Linked DNA regions of Homo sapiens: regions 1 and 3 are each linked to region 2. The links come from fine-mapping of genetic effects on plasma protein levels. Region 2 holds a variant in brackets. A gene starts in each other region. All regions are shown on their forward strands.

Region 1 (8,170 bases), not on the chromosome of region 2:
TACACAGACAGAGTGCTCGGGCCACAATAAATTTAAAATTAAAATAATAAACAACAAAAAGTTAAGCCCCACAGATCTGGAAAATTTGTAATGCATTTATAAATGAAATATAGGTAAAAATAAATAATAACGGGAAAAGCAAATCAACAATAATGAAAAAAACAATATAGCAAAGCTGATGAGATGTAGCTAAAGTAGATCTTCAAGGGAAGTTTATAGCCTTAAATGCATATATTAGAAAATAAGAAATTTCTAAATTAATTAAGCATCCAATACATTAGAAAAAGAATGGCAAAGTATGCCGGGTGCAGTGGCTCACATCTGTAATCCCAGCACTTTGAGAGGCCAAGGTAGGTGGATCACTTGAGCTCAAGAGTTCGAGACAAGCCTGACCAACATGGTGAAACCACGTCTCTACTAACAATACAAAAATTAGCCAGGTGTGGTGGCGCACACCTGTAATCCCAGCTACTAAGGAGGCTGAGGCAGGAGAATCACTTGACCTCAGGAGGAGGAGGTTGCAGTGAGCCAAGATCATGCCACTGCACTCCAGCCTGGGCAACAGAGCAAGACAGCCTAAAAAAAATAATAATAATAACAGTGAAACAGCTACACACAAGCAAATCAAGTTCTACCAGGCTTTCAAGGAACAGATTATCCCTATTGTATATAATCTGTATATAAAAAAATAAAAAATAGCACTTAAAAAACAAGTGGTCAAAGCAAGGAAAATAGAATCGTGTCACAGAAACCAAGGGAAGTAATAATTCTCATGTAGGTGGAGAGCTGCCAGATCCCACATATCTCTGTTAAACTTTGCTTCCTGGATGAGGCACTCCCTACCCCTTAAATCCCCCTATTAGGGGTATAGACACCTATATTGCACCCCAACTCTCTCCTTCATAGCAATAATGACCATTACTAACTAATTTTAATTTTGTTTTGTTTTTTGGGTTTTGTGAGATGAGGTCTTGCTCTATCTCCCAGGCTTGAGTGCACTGGCATGATCATGGCTCACTGCAACCTCGACCCCCTGGGCTCAAGTGATCCTCCCACCTCAGCCTTCCGAGTGGCTGGGACCACAGGCACGTGCCACCACACCCAGTTAATTTATTTTTATTATGTGTAGAGACGGGGTGTCACTCTGTTGCCCAGGCTGGTCTTAAACTCCTAGGCTCAAGCAATCCTTCCGCCTCGGCCTCCCAACGTGACTGGGATTCCAGGTGTGAGCCGCCTCACCTGGCCAATTTTACATTTGTCTTTGAGATTATATGATCGATGTCTGACTCTCACACTGGTGTGTCAACTCCGTCAGGGCAGAAACCACATATTTGTCTGTTTGTTTTTCATCTTTGTGCCCCATTACTTGGCTGGTTCCTAACACAAAATGAATGTGCAAAAAACGCTTGTCAAATGAATGAGGAGGTCTAAGGGGCCTTGAGCCCTCTGACGTTTCCATTTTATAATTGTGGACAGAGCCGCTACAGCACAAAGCTGAGCTGGACCATCCAATGTTTAGCCAGTGCCTTACGTGCTAGGAGACACTGGGAGCTGTGCTGGGCTTCTGAGGAGTGGGCAGAGGCTGGAAATACCCATAGTTGGTCAGTCTCCTGTGTCACCCAGACTGGGGAGGTGCAGAAATGAAAATTACAGAGCTGCGAGGACCCAGAACCTCATTAATGAGCTTAACTCACTGTCCTGACCAGGTGGCCTCTCAAAGCCTTGCTGGGAAGGAGGCTTTAAGGTGGTGGGGGCAGCAGTGCTGGTGGTGGTCATCGAAGAAAGTGGGAGTCGGGGAGGAAGCAATGGGGAGCAGGGGACAAAGAGGGCCAGACAAACTCAGAGCTTCAGGTGATGAGACTCAGGAAGCCTAAGTCAGGAACAGTGATTGCGGACATCTTTGTCCCATAACAGAACTTCCTCCTAAGGAAAGGTCTTGCAGAGACTGGTCCTGCTGAGCGCTTTAACAGGTTATTGATTCATAAAAATTGGAGAAAAAAGACAAAGTCTGCCACACCTAACAGCCTTCTGTTTAGAGCTGGTTTAGAGGAAACTTTAAGCAAGTCTTGTGTCCAACAATTTGGGCCTGAGGCAGGGTACAGGTAAGGGAACAGACAGGAGACACGGAGGCAAGAACAAGACTTTAGCTGAAAGAGAAATCAGAGCCAGAGGCAGCCACAAGAACACCCAACCTACTGGAACTCATGCAGGTGGACAGCCTGCCCAGGACTTGCCCTGAGTGGGAAGCAAAGAGCATCTTATCTAGATTTTAAGGAGCAGGGTGCCCCTGGCTGACATCTAGGCTACAGTCACTGGGCCAGGTGGAGGGTTGGTCAGGCCCTCTCAAAAGTCATGAGAGGCCAGGCACAGTGGCTCACGCTTGTAATCCCAACACTTTGGGAGGCCGAGGAGGGCAGATCACTTGAGGCCAGGAGTTTGAGACCAGCCTGGCCAACATAGTGAAACCCCGTCTCTACTAAAAATACAAAAAATTAGCCGGGTATGGTGGCCGGTGCCTATAATCCCAGCTACTTGGGAGGCTGATGTATAAGAATCGCTTGAACCTGGGAGGCAAAGGTTGCAGTGAGCTGAGATCATGCCACTGCACTCCAGCCTGGGCAACAGTGAGAGACCCTTTCTCAAAAAAAAAAAAAAAAAAAAGAACCAAAAAAAGTCATGAGAGTCCTCAGAGTTCTCAAGAAGGGCTGCTGTGGGCCTGTTTCTGGAAAGGAAAGAAAAGCAGGGAGCTGTTGAGAAAATACCATATGTTTTTATGCCCCAGCCAGGCATGGGGGAGAGGCTGACCCCAAAAGAGAAAGTGGTTGTGTGAGATTTCAAGGAAGATGTCAGCGGGCTGCATCCCAGGGCCTCTAGACAAAAGGAAGGGCCCAGCCAGGCATGGTGGCTCGTGCCTGTAATCCCAGCACTTTGGGAGGCCGAGGCAGGCAGATCACCTGAGGCTAGGTGTTCTGGTCCAGCCTGGCCAACATGACAAAACCCCATCTCTACTAAAAATACAAAAAATAAGCTGGGCGCGGTGGCTCTCCCCTGTAATCCCAGCCAAGGTGGGCGGATCAACTTGAGGCCAGCCTGACCAACGTGGCAAAACTCCATCTCTACTAAAAATACAAAAATTAGCTGAGCGTGGTGGCACGCACCTGTCATCCCAGTTACTCAGGAGGCTGAGGCGTGAGAATGGCTTGAGCCTGGGAGACAGAGGTTGCAGTGAGCTGAGATTGCATCATTGCACTCTAGCCTGGGTGACAGAGTGAAATGGAGGGAGGAAAAAAAAAAAAAAGGAAGGTCCCGTCCAGGGAGCCAGCCTAGGATGGGGAAGGCTCACCAGAAGTGGATGCAAAGAGTGCTGGAGATGAGCTCATTCTATTTGCCTAGGAAAGAAAAACGTCCAGAAACCTGGCCTTCCTCCTCTTGGCCGAGGCCCTCCAGGAAAGCCAGGCAGACCCTGCTCCTGCTCTGACCCCCTGGAGAAGTGATATGTAGAAAAGAGGAGATGGGCTTTGGCCCAGAGGACAGCAGCGTTAGGCTAGTGAGCAGTTCCCAGTCGGTTCAAGGTTGCTAGGCTCAGCGAACTGCAAGTCCCTGTTCGACAAGTTTCTTCCTAAAGGTCCCCAGTTCCTCATGATTCTTCTGAGGGTCTCATCCACCCTCCCAGGGCCTGCAGTCAGCTAGCCACCCCACTGCCCCATGCCTGCAGTGAACACATTTACCACAACCTGGAAATGGCTGGTGACAGAAAAGTCCTCACGGCCACAACACTCTCTGCGGTGGGAATTCAGGTGCCTTGCCTGATGGTGACAAAGCTGGTTTTGCATAAACAGCTCTCTGAATCACACCCAAATGTGGCTTCTGACTTGAGTGGACCCCCATGAAGAGCTGCAGAGGGGGCTGGGAAAAGACAAGAGAATGGAGAAAATGAGGAGAAAGGAAACTACAGAGTGAGATAGAGAACAGATCTGACAGGTGTGACCACAGCAGTGTGACATTTATGAACAGTGTGGAAACAACGGCAAAGCCCCTAAATTAAAAACTTCCTGGGGAAATAAGCCACTCCACATATCGGTTGCTGAGGAAAGAGTGGAGGAGGCTGTTGACCCGTGTGTGTCCCCATGACTCAAAGAGGGAAAAGTCTAGCTGTTTCCAATATCCCGAAATCAGTCTTGCTGGGAGAACTGGGAAAATAAAAAAGAGATGACCCCCGTAGGAAGCTACCTTTAATCCCAAGTGCCCAAGGCTAGGAGAGAAGATGCTCCAGGCGATCCAGGACACCAGTGACTGACACAGCCAGAGGTGGGAAAGGGGAGGATAAAGATGGCACAAAAGTGAGGAGTGAGCAAGGGTCTGAGAGGGAAGGCCATGTGGGCAGTAGGTGGCACCCACATCAGAGACTGACATGAGGATTAAAGGAGAGCATAGGTGATCGGTCAGAGTGTGACAGAAGAGAGGCAGCTCTACACCCCTTGCTTGCAATTCTGAGCATTCTGTAGCAAACTCGTTTGGCCATCAAACCAGACCTCAATTGAGACAAGGCTATTTAAGCTTCCTCCCAGTTGGTGTAAATATTCAATAGTTTTGCTGCAGAAATGTTGCGTTTGATTATGAGACTACCCCAACTCCCCAAGGGTGTTTTGTGGTGCTGGTTTCTGTATAAACCTGAAAAATTCTGAATTCCAAAACTTATCTGACCCCCAAAGTTTCAGATAAGAGCTTGTGGACCTGTGCTCAATTCTGGTTCTCCTTCCTTCTTTCAACTGTTGTCTGTGAAAGGAGGGATGCAGGTATGGGAGACAGGAGTCCTGCGAATTCGTCTGTAAACTGTGGACGGGGGGGTGGGTGGGGGGGGGTAACGTGGGCACCTTTGTGCACAAGTGCATGAATAGGAGGGGTGAGCAACTGTGTGTCCATCACCTTTTTGTCAAAGAAGCAGGAGTCAGTGGGCTACGTGCTTCATGAGCAGGAGAGGCGGAAACTAAGGAAGGCTCATGTGTTGGAGGAAGCATGTTTGAAGAGCAGCAGGTCTCACAGAGTTTGCTCTTTAATACTCTCCCCAGCACACGGAAGGGGAAGGGGGTGGAGGTTGCTGCTATGAGAGAGAAAAAAAAAACAGCCACAATAGAGATTCTGCCTTCAAAGGTTGGCTTGCCACCTGAAGCAGCCACTGCCCAGGGGGTGCAAAGAAGAGACAGCAGCGCCCAGCTTGGAGGTGCTAACTCCAGAGGCCAGCATCAGCAACTGGGCACAGAAAGGAGCCGCCTGGGCAGGGACCATGGCACGGCCACATCCCTGGTGGCTGTGCGTTCTGGGGACCCTGGTGGGGCTCTCAGCTACTCCAGCCCCCAAGAGCTGCCCAGAGAGGCACTACTGGGCTCAGGGAAAGCTGTGCTGCCAGATGTGTGAGCCAGGTAAGAGGGGGCCTTGGTAAGGGCCAGGTGAGTGGCGAAAGAGAGAGGACTGGGGTTAATACAGTAAATAGGCGCAGGGTGAGACTGAGCTCAAGCAAGGAGGGAAATCCTGCAGCTGTGGGGAGGCACCACCTTGAAGAGGGCAGAGAACCAGCCCTTCTCAGGCCTTGATCCCTTACCCTCTCCTCCCAGGAACATTCCTCGTGAAGGACTGTGACCAGCATAGAAAGGCTGCTCAGTGTGATCCTTGCATACCGGGGGTCTCCTTCTCTCCTGACCACCACACCCGGCCCCACTGTGAGAGCTGTCGGCACTGTAACTCTGGTGAGGTGGGCAAGGGTGTGTAGGTGGGGACGATGGACAAGCATCTGGGGGAGCAAGGCTGGTGACGGGTTTGGGGGTGCAAGGAGGATGACGGGGCCAAAGCTTTGGCCTTCTTCAAGGCTCACAGCAAGTGGAGCCAATGCTGGGAAATGCGGCACCCTAGGTGGGGCATGAATTAACGTGGGCAGACATCTAGTATTCCAGGAAAGGGATAAATAGAATTTGAGGGATTGGTGAGAACGGGTCTATGGATAGGATCAAGACAATAAAATGAGAGAAGTGGCTCTATGACCCCAGATTTCGGGCAAGCAACCCCCAACCAATAAACTGACTGTGTTCCCAGAGTGCACATGTGCAGGTTGGCCATTGGGAATTTGGAATACATCTTTCTAAGGAAATAACAAAGCAACCCAATAGGTAACAACCTTTTTTTGCACAAAAGCCAATTTGAGAAAATGAGTATGTATGTAGCCTGTGTTTTTATTTTATAGTTCCAAAAAAAAAGGTTTTTTTTAAACTAAGAAGTATAATATCTGCAGTTGTGCTTATGAATGCTGTTATTATTTCTCCATCTTCGCTACAATTTCAGAAACTACGGCCAGTATACACTAGAATAGCAGGCTTTAAAGTGGCCCCTTTGAACAAATGTTCTCTAGCAAGACACTTTTTAGAACCAGGTAACTGTAACTATTAAACTACCTACTTGCAAAACGTGTTTGGTGTCACTGGGTCTCTTGGTACTGGGTTTTGTTTTGTTTAGTTTAGAGACAAGGTCTAGCTCTGTCACCCAGGCTGGAGTGCAGTGGTGCAATCATAGCTCCCCACAGCCTTGAACTCCTGGGCTCAAGCAATCTTCTAGTCTCAGCCTCTGAAAGTGCCAGGATTACAGGTGTGAGCTGTAGTGCCTGGTCCCGTAAAAACAAAAACAAAAACCAACACCAGATGTGGTGGCTCATGCCTATAATCCCAGCACTTGGGAGGCCAAGGCAGAAGGGTATTTGCATATTTTGTAGAGACTTGAGCCCAGGAGCTTGAGACCAGCTGGGCAACATAGTGAGACCTTGTCTCTAAAAAAATTGGCTGGTCATGGTAGTGCACCTGCAGTCCCAGCTACTTGGGAGGCTGAGATGGGAAGATCACTTGAGCCCAAGAGGTCCCCAAGAGGTCCAGGCTGCTCACATCACTGCACTCCAGCCTGGGTAACAGAGCAAAACCCTTTTTCACACACACACACACACACACACAAAAAGCCAGAGCAGTGGCTCACACTTGTAATCCCAGCACTTTAGGAGGCCAAGGCAGGCGGATCCCTTGAGCCCAGGAGTTTAAGAACACCCTGGGCAACATGGCAAAACCCTGTCTCTACTAAAAATACAAAAAGTTAGCCAGGCGTGGTGGCACGAACCTGTAGTCCCAGCTACTCAGAAGGCTGAAGTGAGAAGATCACTTGAGTCCAGGAAGTGGAGGCTGCAGTGAGCCGTGACTGTACCACTGCACTCCAGCTTGGGAGACAGAGTGAGCAGAGTGAGACCCTGTTTCCAAAAAAAAAAAGAAAACAAAAGCTTTTCCATTGCAAATCAACCAAAAAGGAACGTCTTTAATACACAAGAAATATTCTTCAGTCTACTTAACTTAAAAATGTAACTGTAATAGATGCTTTTCTCTTGACAGCGGCCCCGGCAGGGTTGGAACTTTTCCTAGTCAAAACCCCCCTACTCACTCTGCAGACCCTTCCTGAAGGTCTTCGCCCCATACTGAGCCCATCTTCAGTCCCTTCACTTGTTCCAAACTAGCCCAATCCATGACCCTTCTCTGGGAGCTCAGCCAATAGATCCCAAAGTACCACAGCAGCACCTGGCTGCAGAAGGACCCCCGGGAAATGCAGTCAGGGGTGAGAAGATGGGTGGGCTGAATGAGCTCGGCCCTCTCTGGGCCTTAGTGCTGGCATCTATGAGATGAGGACATGCCTGAAGTCAGCCTGGAATTTTGAGCCCAGGTTATACCTGGTAAATAGAACTCCCAGGTCTCCGGATACTCACCACTAAAACAATAGCACCTCATTGTTTTTGTTTTGTTTTGTTTTGTTTTTTAATTATACTTTAAGTTCTAGGGTACATGTACACAATGTGCAGGTTTGTTACATAGGTATACATGTGCCATGTTGGTGTGCTGCACCCATTAACTCATCATTTACATTAGGTATATCTCCTAATGCTATCCCTCCTCCCTCCCCACACCCCACGACAGGCCCCAGTGTGTGATGTTCCCCTTCCTGTGTCCAAGTGTTCTCATTGTTCAATTCCCACCTACGAGTGAGAACACATTGTTTTTAACCCTCCCCAGCAGCTTCTTTAACCCCTCCATTTCCCTTTTGGCGGAGACCCTTGTCATCACTCCTCTCTACCACCAGTGCTCTCCCCTCCTGC
Region 2 (8,177 bases):
GTAGCTGGGACTACATGTGTGGGCCCCCATGCCTGGCTGCTTTTGAAATGGTTTGTTGTAGAAATGGGATCCTGCTGTGTTACCCAGGCTGATCTGGACCTCCTGTCCCCAAGCAATCCTCCAGGCTCAGCTGGAAGTGTTGGGATTACAGGGATGAGCCACTGCACTTGGCTTAGACATGTTTTTAAGAAGCATAAATACGAATTTCAGTGTTGCCATGAAGTCAGGCAGGGGTTGGCAAACTATGGCCCACAATCCAGATGCAGTCCCCTCCTGTCATGGTGAATAAAGGTTTATTGGAGCCACAGTTCCTCCCCTGTGTTCACTTCTTGTCTGTGGCTACTTAGGGCTGCAGTGGCGAAGCTGAGTAACTGCTGAGTAGGTGCAACAAAGACCACAGGGTCCACGAAGCCCAAGATGCTTACTACCAGGTCCTTTGCAGAAAAATCTTGCTGAGCCCTGGGGAGGGGCCAGGTGGCAGCGGGGAGGCCAGTGGGGAGGCTGGTACAGTAATCCAGGTGAAAAACGATGAGAGCTCAGATTAAAACTATCATGACAAGTGGCTGGAATCAGGATATATTTTGGGGAAAGGACCAACAATACATAGATAAAATGGACAGTATTTAGAGTTTCAGATTTTCTTTCTACCAAAGGATCCCTTTCTAAAAAAAAAAAAGAGTACAAAAGATCAATTTTAAAAACTGACCAAAGAAACACCACCACAAGATTATTTGTGTGATTGAAGCTGGGGTTGAGCCTGGGTACCTTGTGTTTTCAACACCCCTAAAACCCCGGCTGTTCCAGAGGCACCTACAGAGCCCCTTGGGTTCAGACGAGCAGAACTTGAAACCATGGATCGGAAGGAATAGAAATCTGCATATCTTTCACACAAGCCGTAACATTCTAAGCCGCATATTTGCAGGACGCTGACGTGGGGCTACTTCACCCACAGCCAGCAAGCGTCTGCGCCAGTTCTGGGATTTGTGTCCACCTTGTTGTAAGAAGGCAGCTGCTTGCGTGAGGCATGGCGGTGAGGAAACAATGCCACCCGGATCTCACCATTGGCCGTGTGGACTGGCTGTACCATGGGCCAGACGCATGTCTTGGGCAGACACTTTTTAGATGCCAACTTGCCTGTAGACAAAGATGACGCAGAGGTGGCCTCGAGGACGGCCTGTGTGATGGGTTGAATTTGTCCCCCGAAATTCCTGTGTTGATGTCCTAAGCCCCAGTGCTTGAGAATGTGATCTTATTTACAGATATCATCTTATAGAAATAAGTTAAAATGAAAAATGAGGTCAGTAGGGGGGCCCCCAATCTAACTACTGGTGTCGTTATTATAAGAAAAGGAAATGTGGACAGAGACACACAGAGGGAAGACGAGGTGAAGAGACACCGGGAAGGCCACCTACCTGCCAGGAGAGAGGCCTGGAACAGAGCCTTCCCGCACCGCCCTGAAAAGGGACCTTCCCTGCCGACACCTTGATCTTGGACCTACAGCCTGCAGGACTGTGAGACAGTGAGATTCTGTTGCTGAAGCTGCCCAGTCTGTGGTACTTTAAGGAAGCCCAAGCAAACCAATGCAGCGTGGTAGCCCACAGCTGGTGAAAAGATGGAATGAGCGACGGAGCCCCAGGCTTCCTGTCTACACCTCCCAAAGTGCGCTACGGGATCCTTTGGTGGGTGCAGGTTTGCAAGATAATTTTAGGAGGTGCAGGGTGCATAATTTCAATGTACATTATTATGGATTTATCTTACTGTGAAAATGCTTCTAAGAATAGTTTACTTAAGGTTTACATGCTACTCAAGATATAGCTTTAAATGCTAACAAAAAGTGGACTCAAATGAAAACATTCTCTTGCTGTGGTCCAGGGAATCTTGATGTTTTTTCCAGAGAGACTCGCAGCTTTCAGCTACAGCTGCCCTCCCCTTCCTGTCCACTGCACATCCCCACAACACACACACATATACATACATACATGCACAGACATCCACACGCACACACATATACGTACATGCACACGCATACATGCACACACATATGCATGCACACACCTGCACACACACACACACACACACACACACACACTGTGCGTCATGCCCTTACTAAGGAGGCATGGAAGGGAATGTGTGTCTGTAAGGAAATGAAGATGGCTCAAGCCCCTGGTTCCCTGGGTGTTTGCACAGGCACCCTCCCTGCAGACCTTTCTTTGGTCTCTTTCTCTCTCTTAGTGAAAGAGAGAAGCAGAGCCCCAGTGGGTACCCGGCTGCTTAGGGCTCAACCCAAGGTCACAAGCTTCCTCGAGAGCCTGGTGAGATGGGGGCACCACAGGGCCTCCCAAACCAAGGGGGCAGCGTTCAGTGGAGCCTGATGCCCAGGAAAGTGATAGACAAGATGTCTCAGTTCATCAAAGACCCAACCACAATGCAGTGAGGAAGGGCAGCTGCCAAAGGTTTTATTCTCCAGGAGGAGGGGCTCTCGGGGGCTGTGAGCAGCAGGCACGAGGACTTTATTGCACGTGTGGTTAGGTGATGACGACCTACAGCTGCACTGGGAACTGGGACTCAGAGTGCCCCGACCTCCTGCTCTATCTCTCTCTGTCCCTCTCTCCCTCTCTGTCTCTCTGCCTCTCTCCCTCTCTGCCTCTCTCCCTCTCTGCCTCTCTCCTTCTCTGCCTGTCTCTTTCCTTCTCTGCCTCTTTCCCTCTCTGCCTCTCTTCCCCTCTGTCTCTCTCTCCCTCTGTCTCTCTCTCCCTCTCTGTCTCCTCTGTTTCTCTCCCTCTCTGCCTCCTCTGTCTCTCTCTCCTCATATCTCTCTCCCCTCTCCCCACCTCTCTTTCTCTCTCCCCTCCTCTCCATCTCTCTCCCTCCTCCTTTCCCTCCCTGACCCCCATTTATGCACCTGGGCCCCCCTCCTGGGCAGGCACACACACAATGCCAAGGCCACTGTCTGGGATGTGTGGGCAAGGCTGCAGGACTGTGGTCCTGGTGTGGCACCCCCACCTTCCAGCACAAGTGGGGTCG[G/A]GGGTCCCAGGCGTGACTGCGCTCTCCTGCGTGGGCGCCCTGCACTCAGGGAAGCAGAAGCTGCAGGTCTCCACTGGCTCGGGGGATGTGCTCACAGGGCTGCCGGCTTCCATCGCGTGATCTGCAGAGGCGAGAGTGGAGGGCGTGGGCCAGGCCTGGCCCTGCACTAGGGTAGGGGTGACGGTGTGGGCAGCCGCACTCTCCCCCGACCCAGGAGCTAAGGGCAATCACCAGCGTAGAACGCCCCCAGACAGGTGTCAGTGTCCGCCAGTTGCTGACCAGAACCTGTGCCGGGGCAGGGGTGGGCAGGCAATTCTTGGCTCTCACTTCTGTCCAGCACCGAGCCTGCCACGCCCCCCAAGGGGACACCTCCTCCTGGGCTTAGCCCTGAAGGCTCTGCATCTGGAGAATCCTGGGCCCAGGCAAACCTGAAGACCGGCACCCCACACCCACCCTTCCCGGGTGCCACTCTCCCAGTTATCTGTCTGCCAGGATGTCTTAACCTGATTTTATCAAGGTATAGCAAGTAACAGGGATGAGCCCTGGGCCTCTCCACCTAGAAGCAGGGGCAGTGACAGGACCGAGGGATGGCCCGAGGCTTGTCACCCAAGCAGCGAGAAGGGCGAGGACCCCAGTTTCATGCACTCACCCTGGGAAGACTTGGCCGGACTTTGACGGGGCCTTGAGCGGGGCTGGCAGGAGCAGGGATCCCCCCTCTTCTTGAGGAAGCAGGCCACCGCCACCAGGAAGCAGCAGAGGACGGCACACAGGCAGAGCCCCAGCGTGCTGTAGACCAGGGCCACCTGATCTGCACTCAGCTTCAGCCCCGGGAGAGCTGCAAGACAGCATGAGACCCCTCTCTGCAGTGCCTTCTTCTCTTCCCGTCATTAGGCTCAAGCAATCCACATCCCCCCATCCCCCTGCTGTGAGCCTGTCTGGCTCCTGGAGAGGCTGGGCTCCTTTTCTGACCCTGAGGCTGCTGGGATGCTCTCTGGATCCTGGAGGAAGTTGATCCACTCCCCCATCCTGGCAGCAACTTTCTAAGGCCTCAAAGCTGGAAACGTGAGCTAGGCCTTCTTGTTGTCTCCACTTGCTAGGGCTGTAATTGGGACAGCGCTGGAGATGGGCTGATGGGTGAATCGACAGACGAACAGACGATGCTCCAGGGAGCATGTCTCTGTGCATCCTGAACTGGGCCCTTCCTCCAAGGAGAAAGCTTCCTGAGTGAGCGTTTACAGTCGTCCCTTGGTATCCATGGGGGACTGGTTCCAGGATCCCCTACAGATACCAAAATCCGCGGATGTCCAAGTGCCTGATACAAGACGGCCTGGCATTTGCATATAACCTATGCACATCCTCCTATACAATTAGAGTCATCTCTAGATTACTTATAATACCAAATACAATATAGATGCCATGTAGAAGGGTGTTATACTGTATTGTTTAGGGATAACAATGAGAAAAAATGGCTGCAGAGGTTCAGTACAGATGCAACTATCCCCTATCTTTTCTGAGTATTTTCCAGCTGCTGTTGGTTGAATCCACAGACATGGGTCGCACGACACAGAGGGCCCACTGTGTTTGAGAGTAGGACAGGCGACGTTACACTGAGACCAGGACAGCAGGTGCCAACCAGGAGGGCTTTGGGCATCAGGGCACCTGGCCACCCTATGACTCAGGACTTGTGCCTCCAGGTTTGGATGCCAGAGACAGACTCAGCCCAGGTGAAAGCCCTCCCCTTGGAAGTTCTCCTTATCCCAAAAGCTCTTCCTTGTCCCTGGAGCTGGGCATCCTCTAGGCGCTGGGTGGAAAGACAGATGAGCCAGATTTAAGATGACACGTCAAGAAGAGCGAGTCCCACTTCGTGCCGGGCACTTCCCCTACAGCACCCCCTTCATCTTCCCGCTCTGATGGCAGACAACTACCCCCATTAAAAATACTGAGAATTTGTATACCATCAAATTTGCTGTATTAAAGTGTACAACCAGTGGCTTTTAGCACATCACAAGGTTGTGCAGCAATGGCAACTGTCTAATTGGAGACAATTTTTATCACCAAACAGAAACCCTGTCTCATCAGCAGTCACTCCCCATTCCCTCTTCCCAGCCCCTGGCAACTGTTCATCTCTTTTCTGTCTCTGTGGATTTGCCTATTCCAGACATTTCATATTAATGAAATCATACAACACGTGGTCTTTTATGCCTGGCTCCTTGCACTTGGCTTTGAGTTTTCAAGGTCCACCATGTCCTGCCGTGCTGTGTATTAGACCTTCGTTTCTCTTTAGGCGGAATGGACAGACCACATCTGTTTACGCATTCAACAGGGAATGGGCATTTGGGTTGCTTCCACTTTCTGGCTATTGTGAATGACGTTGCTGTGAACATTCACATCCACATGTTTGTGTGGATGGATGTTTTCCATTTTCTTGGGTGTATACCTAGGAGAAGAATGGCTGGGTCACATAATAGCTCTGTTTTGTTTTTTGAGGACCTGCTGGACTGCGTTGCACAGCATCTGCCGTTCACACTCCATTTTACAGATGACAAAACTGAGTGTCTAAGATATTGTTCTCGGTCTTAGACCTGCACCCGGGAGCCGGTCTCACCAATTCCCAGGCCGGTGCTCCAAGCCCGCGGGCCACACAGCGGCCCCAGGGCTGGCACTGCCCGTCTTCCTCACACACGCTTTTAGATTCAGGAATCTCATAAAGTGACAGAGCTGCCAGGACTCTTAGGGGTCATCAGTGTCACTCTGACATTTACAGGGGGGAGATGGGAACTTGGGGTGAGTTCGTGTCACTCCGCCAGTCAGTGGCTGTCCTTCTGTCCAGTGCCCAGAGCTCAGAGAGGCCTAACGGAGGAAAGCAAAGACCCCAGGACCTGCAAACTTGGTGCCACATATCCAAGGCTTACCTGCTCCTATTCACCTCTCAAATCAAATGCAAACACTGCCCTGGAGGCATGAGCAGGGGAGACGCTACCAGCCCTCAGAGCACAGACAGAATGCCAGGCTACAGGTTGTTACTAAGCGGAAATGAACGGCGTTGATTCAAGGAGGAAAACTAAACATTTGTGCATATTTCAAACATTTCATCATAAGATTCTGAAACCCAGCTTTCAGAGACCATGCAAGTGTTCAGAGACCACACCCAGAGCACAGTCACCTGACATCATGCCCTGTGGACCTTCTGGGCTGGACTGGGCCTCATCCTATCCAGGAGAGTGCCATGGGGGCGAGGTTGTGCCACTCCAGGCCTCTGCCTCAAGAAGGCCTGACAGCCTCGGTGTTTGCTCCCTTGGGCCTGAGCTACCACTCGAGAAGTCCAACTGGAGAGTCCCAGTGGAGAGGGGCAAGCCCTGAGATCAGCTGGAGGGGAAGCAAGGCCTGAATATCCCAGCATCAGAGTCAAGCCTCCAATGGCTCTATCCCCAGCACCATCTGCATGACAGACCCCAAGCAAGAGCAGCAGAAGACCCGCCTAGCTGAACCCTGCCTCCCCACAGAGCCACGCAGGGTCACAACATGAAGATGAGGATCTGGTGCCAAGTGTCCAGATCCAGTGACAAGTGTCCTTATACAAGAAGAGAAGGGAAGAGACACAGGCACGAGAGAGAAGCCATGTGAAGACAGAGGCAGAGATGGGAGTGATGCAGCCACAAGCCCAGGAGGCCTAGTTCTGACCTTATTCCCAGAAGGGGTCACGGGCACCCCCAGTGTCTGCAGGACACAGAGGCTGAGCAGTTCCATGGCTGATCACATGCCAGCACCTCTCCCTCCAGTTCTAATCTCATGCCAATGCACTGTCCTTCTGTCCCCCTCCCAGGTCTCTGGTTCCTATTATTGCCAGAAGTAGCCTCTCACAGGGCCCCTGCTGCTATCGCCACCATCCAGGGGCAACAGAGAGCTCTCCCCACAGCCCTGCTCTGACCCCCTTCTCCCATGGCTGCCCCTGCCCCCAGCAGGACATCAGCCTCCCAGCCTGGCACATAGGGCCCTCTGTCATCTGGCATCTGGTCCCTCCTAGTGCCATCTCCAGCTGCCCCTGAATCCTTGCTCTTCCCAACTCAGTCCTCTGCAACCCCCATGTTGGGGGACAGGGTCCTGCCCTTGGTGCTTTTCCTCGTCTTCTGCCGGACAGATGAGCAGCCCCACCCAGTAGGGCAGGCTGCCTGGGCCACCTGTTCCCCTCAGGGAGACACACACACTCCCTGCACCTGCCCCGGAGCCCGGGCAGGAAGCTCCTCGCGTCGGCCTGGAGTCGTCGCAGTAGAACCCCACGCCAGTCTCCTCTCCTGCTCAACATCTCAAGCCATTTTCAGTCCAGCTTGGGAGCCTGCCCTCCTCTCCCCACCAAGCGCCATGTGTGAGCAGCAGGGCTTTCTGTGCTCTCTTGGTGAGCATGTGGAGCGGTCAGTCTCTACCTTCAAAGCAGATCTGGGGTGGGGTCCCTCCTGCTTCTGTGGAGTGGCCACCACACTCCTGCAGGCTGGGAGCCCGAGAGGAAGGGATTTATCCCAGCCTCCAGCACAGAGCCCCTCACAGCCTCCCAACGGCACAGTTCTCTGCTCCTAGCAGCACCTGTACATGCTGTTGCCTCTGTCTGGAACCCTGTCTCCACCGTGTGGCTTCAACATAGTTGCTTTTTGAATGAGCAGTTCCAGCGCACAGAGCACATGCTCCCCCAAAAACATATTCTCCCAAATCACCCTCACAGCAGCTCTATGAAGGCGAACAACTCCAGCCTCACAGAACTAAGGCTCAGAGAGGGTCGGTAGCTTGCTCCAGGTCACACAGCTTGTGAGGGACATAACTAGGGGTCTGGCTCCACACTCCACACCCGCACCCCAGCCTGCCCTAAAGACTCCTCCTCGGGGAAGCCTTCCTTGTCCCCGTGTCACCTGCAGCTGGGTTACGTGGCTCCCGTGCACTGAGAGGAATTTGTCATCTGCGTGGCTTGTCCACTGCCTGGCCTTCCACGAGACAGTGAGCTCCATGGGTCTGGGACAGGAACTGCCTCATTCTCCCCACTCCCCATGCACAGCAAGCCTGCCACAGTTCCAGGTCCCACTAAGGAGTGGCAGTTCTGAATGGGATGCAAGAGAAACCTGGAGTCAGGGTGAGGTGGGACCTGGCAGGGCTGGAGACAGGGAACG
Region 3 (8,146 bases), not on the chromosome of region 2:
AGATGAAATTTTTTGAATAAAATGTCAACATGTATGCCTCTATAAATATACAGACTTAAACATTATATGCATGGATGCTTCCTGTAACGATCAGTTGTTTGTAACTTCACATCATAGGCAGTTTAGGTACTGTGTAGATCAGTGCTGTCTATTCTGTGAGCTGTAAAGAATGAATTTTGTGTGTGAGTCTTTGTCTTTTGCTGGGCTAGGTGCCAGAGCTCCGGCATTGGAAGGTGGTTGACTTGCAGATTGGTGAGAAGAATTTACTGACAACAGTATAGGTTTGAAAAGGAAAGTTTTACTAGATAGAAAGAAAGCTGCAAAAGAATGCAGCAGGGCACCTCAGCAAGGGAGGAATTGTGGTGGATTTTCCCTTAGGCGTGTTTATGAACCTTAAAGCGGGAGTTTAATGGTAATTTGGACCCTATTAGCCACATAGGTCATGATAAATGGTTAAATTTGTAGGCATTTTGGTGCCTTGATGTCAGCAAGTGTTGCACAATGAGTTTCAACATACATACATTCTGCAGATGTATGGAAATTCTAGTTACTTATAAATTTTTGAGAAAGAAGCCTGGAACCAGATGCCCGCTTTAGATAACAGGGAAGTCTAATTACTTCTAAATTCCTCAGACGAGGAGTTTTTTCCTCTGGATGGCTGGCTTGACGGTCACCAGGTGACCTCCACTCTCTTCATCTTTGATTCTACTTCTCATCTCCTTGAGTGCACTGAAATTTCTTACTAGAGATTCATTTCTTTGGACCTTGAACACTTTTGGTTTTCAGAGCTCTCAGAGAAAAACTGATCAAAAGTATGATAAATTATTAAATGGATAAAAGGAATTTTGTTTGAGGGGCATAATTAGTGTTTGTGAAAGGAATCAGGGTTTATGGGGACTGTTCCTCTGTCCTTCTTCGAGAGGACAGCGCATGTTATTTAATAGGACTGGGAAGTGAGAAGGCCAGAAAACCAAAGAAGAGGAACGTTTTTTTTCTCCTAGCTTTTATTGCCACCTTCACCCGACCTCTGATCTGGTGAAAGAAGTTGGGAATATTTACAGGAAATCTGGATTCCTGAGATTTCTAAGGAACACTAAAAATCTGACACTGGACTGCAGAGGCAAATATTTTAATTTTTCACTCTGCTATCGAAAGAGGTGGCGGACAGATTCAAACAAGAATATAATGTAGGACTCTTTACATTCTGTGACTATTAAAGGAACAAAAGGCAGGGTGCTTCAGTACTAGACTTGCATGGGGCCAGAAAGTTGGGGGGTTTGAATTTAAGCTGCCTACTTCATAATTTGTCTAAGGCTGGGCCACTTTCCCAATCTTTTTTGCTATTATCCTCAGGGCCTTATGAAATAACTACAATGCAACATGACTATTAATGTTATAGTTAATCTGATTATATGATTTTTGCTGATGTATTTCTCAAAGTGTGTGACTTCATGCAATGATTCTCAGCCGTGGCTGCACGTTAGAATCACCTGGGGAGCTTTTAAGCGATCTGACGCCCAGACCACACACCAGGCTAATCATATCAGAATCTCTGGGGGTGGAAGTCAGACATCACCATTTTCTAAAAAAGGCTTTCTAGATAATTTCCATGTGTAGCTACAGTTGTAAGCATTGGTTTAATGTATTATCATCTGTCTCTCTCAAGTAGAATGGTTTTAACATAGTGATTCTCTAATGTTTTGGTCTCAGAACTCCTTGCATTAGTAACAGTAATTGAGGACCACAAATAGCTTTCATTTATGTGGACCATGTCTATCAATATTTATTGTATTGAAAATTAGAACAGGCATTTTACAAATACTTAATTATGGATTTATTTTAAAAGAATAAAGTCATTGCATCTAAAGACACATGTTTTATGAAAAAATACATTTTCCAAAGTAAAAAGAGTTTAGTGAGAAGATTGGCATTTAAAAAAATCTCTTTAATTTCTGACTTTTTAGATGACAACTGGATTCCCATATTTGCTTATGCATTCCACCTGTTGTGATATATTATTTTGGCTGAAGTACATGAAGAAAATTTGACCCCACACGGACATGTAGTAGGAAAAAGGAAGAGTATTTTAATAGCCTCTTCAGATAACTGTGGATAATCTCCTTCATTATTAAATCAAAACATAACAAATGATAGTGTCATAAAAGGTACAACTTAAAATCTGCTTCTAAATACATGTTTTTATTCCATTACATTAAAATCCACTGGGTGTCTCTTATACTTTGAGTGGAACTTTTCTTTGTGACTTTGTAACATGATGAATTGAACATTTGGAAAATATTGCTTCACTGAGTTATGCAGATATTCCAAATGTTGAGCATTTCATTATATATAATAAATAATCACATTTGTTAAAATCACCAATTTTGTCATAAAAGTTGTTGCATATCAGGAAACTATCAAGCTTATGGTAGCAGATACAAGTTATCCAAAATTCCAATTTTTACTGCAAAGATCCAGTTTTATCACTGGCAACAAACAGTGTCAGTTATTTTCCTTCAAGGGATAGGCGCACTTTATTCATCTTCAAATGTCTGCCAAATATCCAAGTCTGAATAATCATAATTTATCAGTCATTGTTCTTTCAATTAAATTGGAATTTCATGAAAAAAGTAGCAAGTTCACTATGCTTCTCTCTCTCTCTCTTTTTCTTTTTTTGAGACTGTCTCTCTCTGTCACACAGGCTGGAGTGCAGTGGTGTGATCTCTGCTCACTGCAAACTCTGTTTCCCAGGTTCAAGTGATTCTCCTTCCTCAGTCTCTGGAGTAGCTGTGACTACAGGCACCTGCCACCATTCCCAGCTAATTTTTGTATTTTTAGTAGAGATGGGGGTTTTATCCTGTTGGCCAGGCTGGTCTTGAACTCCTAACCTCAAGTGATCCACCTGCTTTGTCCTCCCAAAATGTTGGGATTACAGATGTGAGCCACTGCGGCCCACTATACTTCTGAAACAACGGTACAAATGCTTTTCTTTGAGACAATTGCCCTTTGGTGTGCAGCAGAAGTGTTTGATTTCTACGTCTTATTTTCCCATGTGAGTATAAAGAGCTGCATACTCTCAATTTGTGCTTCCAGTTAAGATGGAACTGGATTTGTCATCCCACCTAAAATATATTAAAAATGACATTCACAATGGATTGGATAAAGAAAACGTCACACACACACACACACACACACACACACACACGCACACACACACACACACCCTGGAATACTACCAGCAATTAAAAATAACAAAATTTTGTCTTTTGTAACAACATGGATGGAACTGGAGGCCATTATCTTTAGTGAAACAGCTCAACTAGCACATGTTCTCACTTATAAGTGGAAGCTAAATAATGTGTACACAATGACATGAAGAGCTGAATAATAGACATTGGAGACTTGGAAGGGTGGGAGGGTAGGAGGGATGAGAAATTACCTGATGGGTAAATGTATACTATGTTTTCAGGTGATGCTTACACTAAAAGCCCAGACTTGTCCACTATGCAGTATATCCATGTACCAAAACTGCTCCTGTACTCTCTAAGTGTATAAAAATTTTTAAAATGATGCTTAAATATTGGAAAAGAGGTATCACAGGAAAGTGGTGAGAAAAGGGAAAATGAAATGAGATGAGCCTGATGTTTTCTCCAGCTTACTGCTTTGAGAGTTTCCAGGATGCAGTGCAGGTAGGAGGAGTCCACACAGAGCTGGTGGTCTCCATGAGATGAAAACGCAGACGTGAGGAGCTCTCTCTCCTCCTGTACTCTGTCCTGCTAGATTTAAAATCTAGCTTCATGGAGAGACAGCTTCAGAAGGCAGTAAAACAACAATTTTATTACTTCATCAATGACATTCTTAAGTGAAACTGGCTCTTTTTCTTTTCTTTTATCGTCCTCTTCTTTTTTTTTTTCTTTATGCGTGGCAGTGAAAAATACTAAGATGGCTGGGTATGGTGGCTTACGTCTGCAATCCCAGCACTTTGGGAGGCCGAGGCAGGTAGATCACCTGAGGTCAGGAGTTCGAGACCAGTCTGACCAACATGGTGAAACCCTGTCTCTACTAAAAATACAAAAATTAGCAGGGTATGGTGGTGCATGCCTGTAATCCCATCTCCTCAGGAGGCTGAGATAGGAGAATCGCTTGAACCTGGGAGGCAGAGGTTGTAGTGAGCCGAGATGGCACCATGGCACTCTAGCCTGGGAAATAAGAGTGAAACTCCTTCCAAAAAGAAAGAAAGAAAGAAAAACACAATGACTACAAGTATAGATTTTCCTCCTCAATAGTACAGTTTTGTGTCCTGTATTGACAGTTGCTAAGGTGCCAGCATTTTTACCCATCATTGCTTTTGCAACATCAGTGCAAAGTCTATACAGTAGAAAAAATGAATCTTGTTTTGGTATTATTATAAAAGTTGATTTGACTTTGGAGACAGCCAAGAGGGTCTTGGGGAATCCCCAGTATCCATGGACCACACTTTTGAAAACTATTGTTTTAATAGAACCTTCTGGTCATTACTACTTTGATCTAATGGCGCCACTTTAAAGGTGGGACTGGGTGTAGGAACATCCTGCCATGGCAGCTTCATGGAGAAGATCTGTTTTGGCAATTGGGTCCTTCATTTCCTTCACATCACAGTATGGAATCTATACTATAATGGAGGTAAAAATTTCTCCACTTGAGAACAGTGTTATCACTGTATATACAACACATTTTTTCCATGATGAAAAACAGGGTCTGAAACTTTAATTAAAATGGAAAAGTCATTAGTTATCTTCCATGGGAAGAGTTTGAAGAAAGGAAAAGTTGAAGTAGGGCAAAAATAGCAGATATAAGGTATTTCTAAACGTTTCCCAAATGAAGGAAGAGAGAAAAGAATGAGCGAAGGAAAGGAAAAGGGTATTTAGTGTGTAAGACACTAGAAAAGATATGCATAAGGAATGAAGTGATACATACATAGTGGTGTTGGATTTGTAGATTCTTGGAAAGTTGGCAGAAAAGCTTACATGTAAAAAAAAAACCAATGTATTGAAATCAGTCTCACTAGCTATGTGGAATGTTTTAGATTTGTACCAGATACAATACGTTTGTGGTGGATACAGGAGATGCGCTGCCCAGATCTGCCCCCAGGGAAGGACCCTGCTCCAGCTGTTGGAGGCCGGCTGGCCCACAGCCTCTAGCAGTCAAGCTCTTTTGGCTGGAAAGCCGCTTGCAGGAAATCACTCCATGGAGGTGCAGAGATAAGGCCCCAGACATTTTGGCCCAGTATGGGACAACTTTGACCGTCTTTTTCAGCTTCAGGACTCCCATGGAGTTGGGTGAGGTTGTTGGGCCCGCTTTGCTGCTAACTTCTCCCTCTGTTCTCTCCTGTTCCCCTTCTTCCTCCCACAGGGGTTTGTCCCAAGGGCACTCCCTAATACACATCCTGCATGTTAAACTCTTGTCTCAGAGTCTGCTTCCTGTAGATACCAAACTGTAAGAACATCTTATTGACTTAAATATAACCAAAATTGGAGAAACTTAGGAAACAAAATCATCATTACGTTATGTGCTGACATTTTAGCTTATTTCTATATTTCTTGTTTTGAATTGCTCATACTTAGCATGATAGTACCTCTCACATTTTGTTTCATTTAGGTTTGCTATTTCCACGTTCTCTTTCTTATAGGAACCATATTGTGAAAAGACATAAAGGTAATAGGGTAAAAAAAAGCAAATAGGCTCTTTATTACCCAGCCACTCAGGAAATGCACTATTTCAAGGTTGACCCAGGCAGCAAGAGAGGAGCTGTATTGGGGAATGTGACAGTGGTTTAGTTCTGAAACTGGAGCCAGTAGAAAGTTCTGAAGGGGGTCCGATGATCAGAACTGTCTGTGGGTTTAATAAAGGTGTATTTAATTTTATTTAAGCCTGGAGATTTAAATTGTCACTCAAAACTCTCAGACATGAATAGGGTTAGCAAATCTGTACACCAGGAAAGGAGTTATTTACATCCTGTCTTCTCCTACAGCTCCAGAGGAGGGCAGAACAGTGTATTTCCAGGCAAGCCCTCTCTTTAAAAACTCATAGCCAAGGCTGGGAAGACAGAGTGAGTGGGTGGGCCTTCTGGCAGCTTCCTTACCTTCAAATCTTTGCTCTCTGTGAAATGGTTCTGCTTCAGTATCCTTGTTCTGATTTTTCTGGGAACTAGATGTTACTGGGAGATGACTCAGAGCAGGCCAAGCCCTGATCCTCACTGTGGAAGCAAAAGAGGCTGGTGAAAGTCACTGTCCTGACAACTTGGACCAGAAACCTACAGACAAAACTGAAATGTTTTCCTGCCCTAGGATTATCTGGATAACAATGACCTTTGATGTTACAAAGTAAATAGAATTGTGTTTGGCTTTTCCTTTTGGGGCCATGCCTTGGAGAAGATGACTCCTTCAGAGCCGCTGTGAATATTGTAGATCTCATTATTTCAGATAATTACTTTGACCATCCTTTTCAATTTGAGAGTATGATGTGAGGCAAGGCAACTATTTGTGAGAAAAAAGAGAAAAGGCAAAGATCCACTGTCATACTTTTGCTTGTGGGTTCCAGTCCAGGCTTTCTATGGGGGGTGGGGGGGTGTCTCAGTCTCCCCGTCTGTAAAATGGGATTAGTGGATTAAATCCGGGAAGGTTGGACAAGCACCTAGGACGGTGCCTGGTGCCGTGTTCAGCAGACGTCGATTCCCTGTCCACCCCTTCTTTAGGAGCTGTGGGAAACACTTCATAACTCCCCAGGGTCTGGTGAACCCTTCCTCCCTTTTCTGTTCCCTGTTTTGGCATTGGAGATCATAAAAAGGCTCTTCCATGTCTCTTGCTTCCTTCCTTTCATCTTCTCCAAGAGAAGGAAGTGGCCGCCTTTGTTAGCTTGGGTTCAGAAGCTTGTGTCTGTCACCCAGGGCCGCCCAGCCCCGGGGTTTGCGAAGGTCCGGGGTAGGAGGGCTGCAGCCTGCGCGACGCGGCGGGAGGCTACCCGGGGGCGATGGGAAGGCGGGCGCAGTCGACCCAAGGGTGGAGAAGAGGGAAGGCGAAGGACGCGCGTTCCCGGGCTCGTGACCGCCAGCGGCCCGGGGAACCCGCTCCCAGACAGACTCGGAGAGATGGCAGGCGGAAGACACCGGCGCGTCGTGGGCACCCTCCACCTGCTGCTGCTGGTGGCCGCCCTGCCCTGGGCATCCAGGGGGGTCAGTCCGAGTGCCTCAGCCTGGCCAGAGGAGAAGGTGAGGGGCTGTTTCTGCGTAGTTGTACTTGAGCGGCTCTGGTCCGATGCGAGGACCCCTGGCCGGGTCAGCCCTACCTAGGCAGAGCGGGAGGCGGGGCAGGGCCACGGTCCCCAGCCCAGGCACCGGCGCCCCACCCGGCGCCCGGAGGAGTCGGGGCTCTGCATACTCGCCGGGGTGCCTCGGCCAGTCCGGGGCTGTTCTGGAGACGCCAGGGGGGCTGGGTGATGTCACTGGCCTCTCCTGGGCTGCGGTCTGATGGGGGTGCTGATAGGCACAGGAAATGTGTCTCGCCGGCGGCTGCTGAGCCGGGAGGCGAGGGCGCATCGCGGCGCCACCCCCCACTCGGGACCCTGGAGGGCAACGGGGCCGGCGCTCCGGGGCCGCTAGGGTGCGGGGTGCGCCTGGGGGTGTGCCCACAGCCCCCCCGCTGCTTCATCCAAGGATGCTGCTGGGGCGCTGAAGTGTCCCTACAGTCTCAGGACGGATGTGTGTTGTTTGTTTTAGATTTTTAAAAGGAGCAACTCGGCAGGAAGGACCTTTACTGGAGACCTGCTTACTTCAAAAGCCTTTTTCCTCCACTTAAAAGAGGGTACCTGCTATTTTCAGAGAAAATGGATCTAGTTGTAGGTAGAAATCGCATATAAGGAACTTAGGATAAAAGTGATTTGCAAGTTCCCTCTGTAAGAAGTGTATGGGTTCGGCCGGGCGGGGTGGCTCACGCCTGTAATCCCAGCACTTTGGGAGGCCGAGGCGGGTGGATCACGAGGTCAGGAGATCGAGACCATCAGGGCTAACATGGTGAAACCCTGTCTCTACTAAAAAATACAAAAAATCAGCCGGGCGTGGTGGCACGCACCTGTAATCCCAGCTACTCGGGAGGCTGAGGCAGGAGAATGG

Alleles and levels. Alleles are on the strand shown, and positions count from the first base shown. The strength of an association depends on the size of the effect and on how common the allele is.
For the plasma level of the protein whose gene starts at base 5,144 in region 1, allele A in region 2 goes with a higher level than allele G (weak association).
For the plasma level of the protein whose gene starts at base 7,025 in region 3, allele A in region 2 goes with a higher level than allele G (weak association).

The links. A credible set is the group of variants that fine-mapping cannot tell apart. PIP is the chance, under the fine-mapping model, that this variant and not a neighbour inherited with it causes the effect. Protein levels are from antibody-based Olink assays in UK Biobank. Linkage for the fine-mapping came from a reference panel and not from the study's own genotypes, which makes the PIPs less certain.
Region 1: CD27 starts here. The variant in region 2 is the best candidate, but not a certain one, in a credible set for the plasma level of the CD27 protein (UK Biobank, PIP 0.78).
Region 3: QPCT starts here. The variant in region 2 is the best candidate, but not a certain one, in a credible set for the plasma level of the QPCT protein (UK Biobank, PIP 0.78).

What each region holds. Positions count from the first base shown.
Region 1 is chr12:6,439,812-6,447,981 of GRCh38, forward strand. CD27 (CD27 molecule) reads left to right here and starts at 5,144. Exons shown (of 6, transcript NM_001242.5): 1 at 5,144-5,420; 2 at 5,613-5,744. The coding sequence starts at 5,285. CD27-AS1 (CD27 antisense RNA 1) reads right to left here. Exons shown (of 6, transcript NR_015382.2): 4 at 7,150-7,276; 5 at 3,735-3,906. RefSeq lists silencers at 2,926-3,065, 3,166-3,245 and enhancers at 4,236-4,305, 4,326-4,375, 5,280-5,781, 5,326-5,385, 5,416-5,595 and 1 more.
Region 2 is chr17:16,936,653-16,944,829 of GRCh38, forward strand. It overlaps TNFRSF13B (TNF receptor superfamily member 13B), which reads right to left. Exons shown (of 5, transcript NM_012452.3): 4 at 3,674-3,859; 5 at 2,429-3,145. The coding sequence ends at 2,895. Among named protein-coding and RNA genes, the nearest start is that of TNFRSF13B, 31 kb to the right of the region's middle. RefSeq lists enhancers at 528-1,028, 1,826-2,666, 6,790-7,290, 7,291-7,791, 7,853-8,177 and silencers at 2,452-2,501, 2,512-2,561. The variant G/A (reference allele first, on the strand shown) is at 3,025.
Region 3 is chr2:37,337,606-37,345,751 of GRCh38, forward strand. QPCT (glutaminyl-peptide cyclotransferase) reads left to right here and starts at 7,025. Exons shown (of 7, transcript NM_012413.4): 1 at 7,025-7,246. The coding sequence starts at 7,127. LOC124907754 (a long non-coding RNA gene) reads right to left here and starts at 7,450. Exons shown (of 2, transcript XR_007086284.1): 1 at 6,122-7,450; 2 at 1,811-3,122. RefSeq lists a silencer at 7,396-7,455.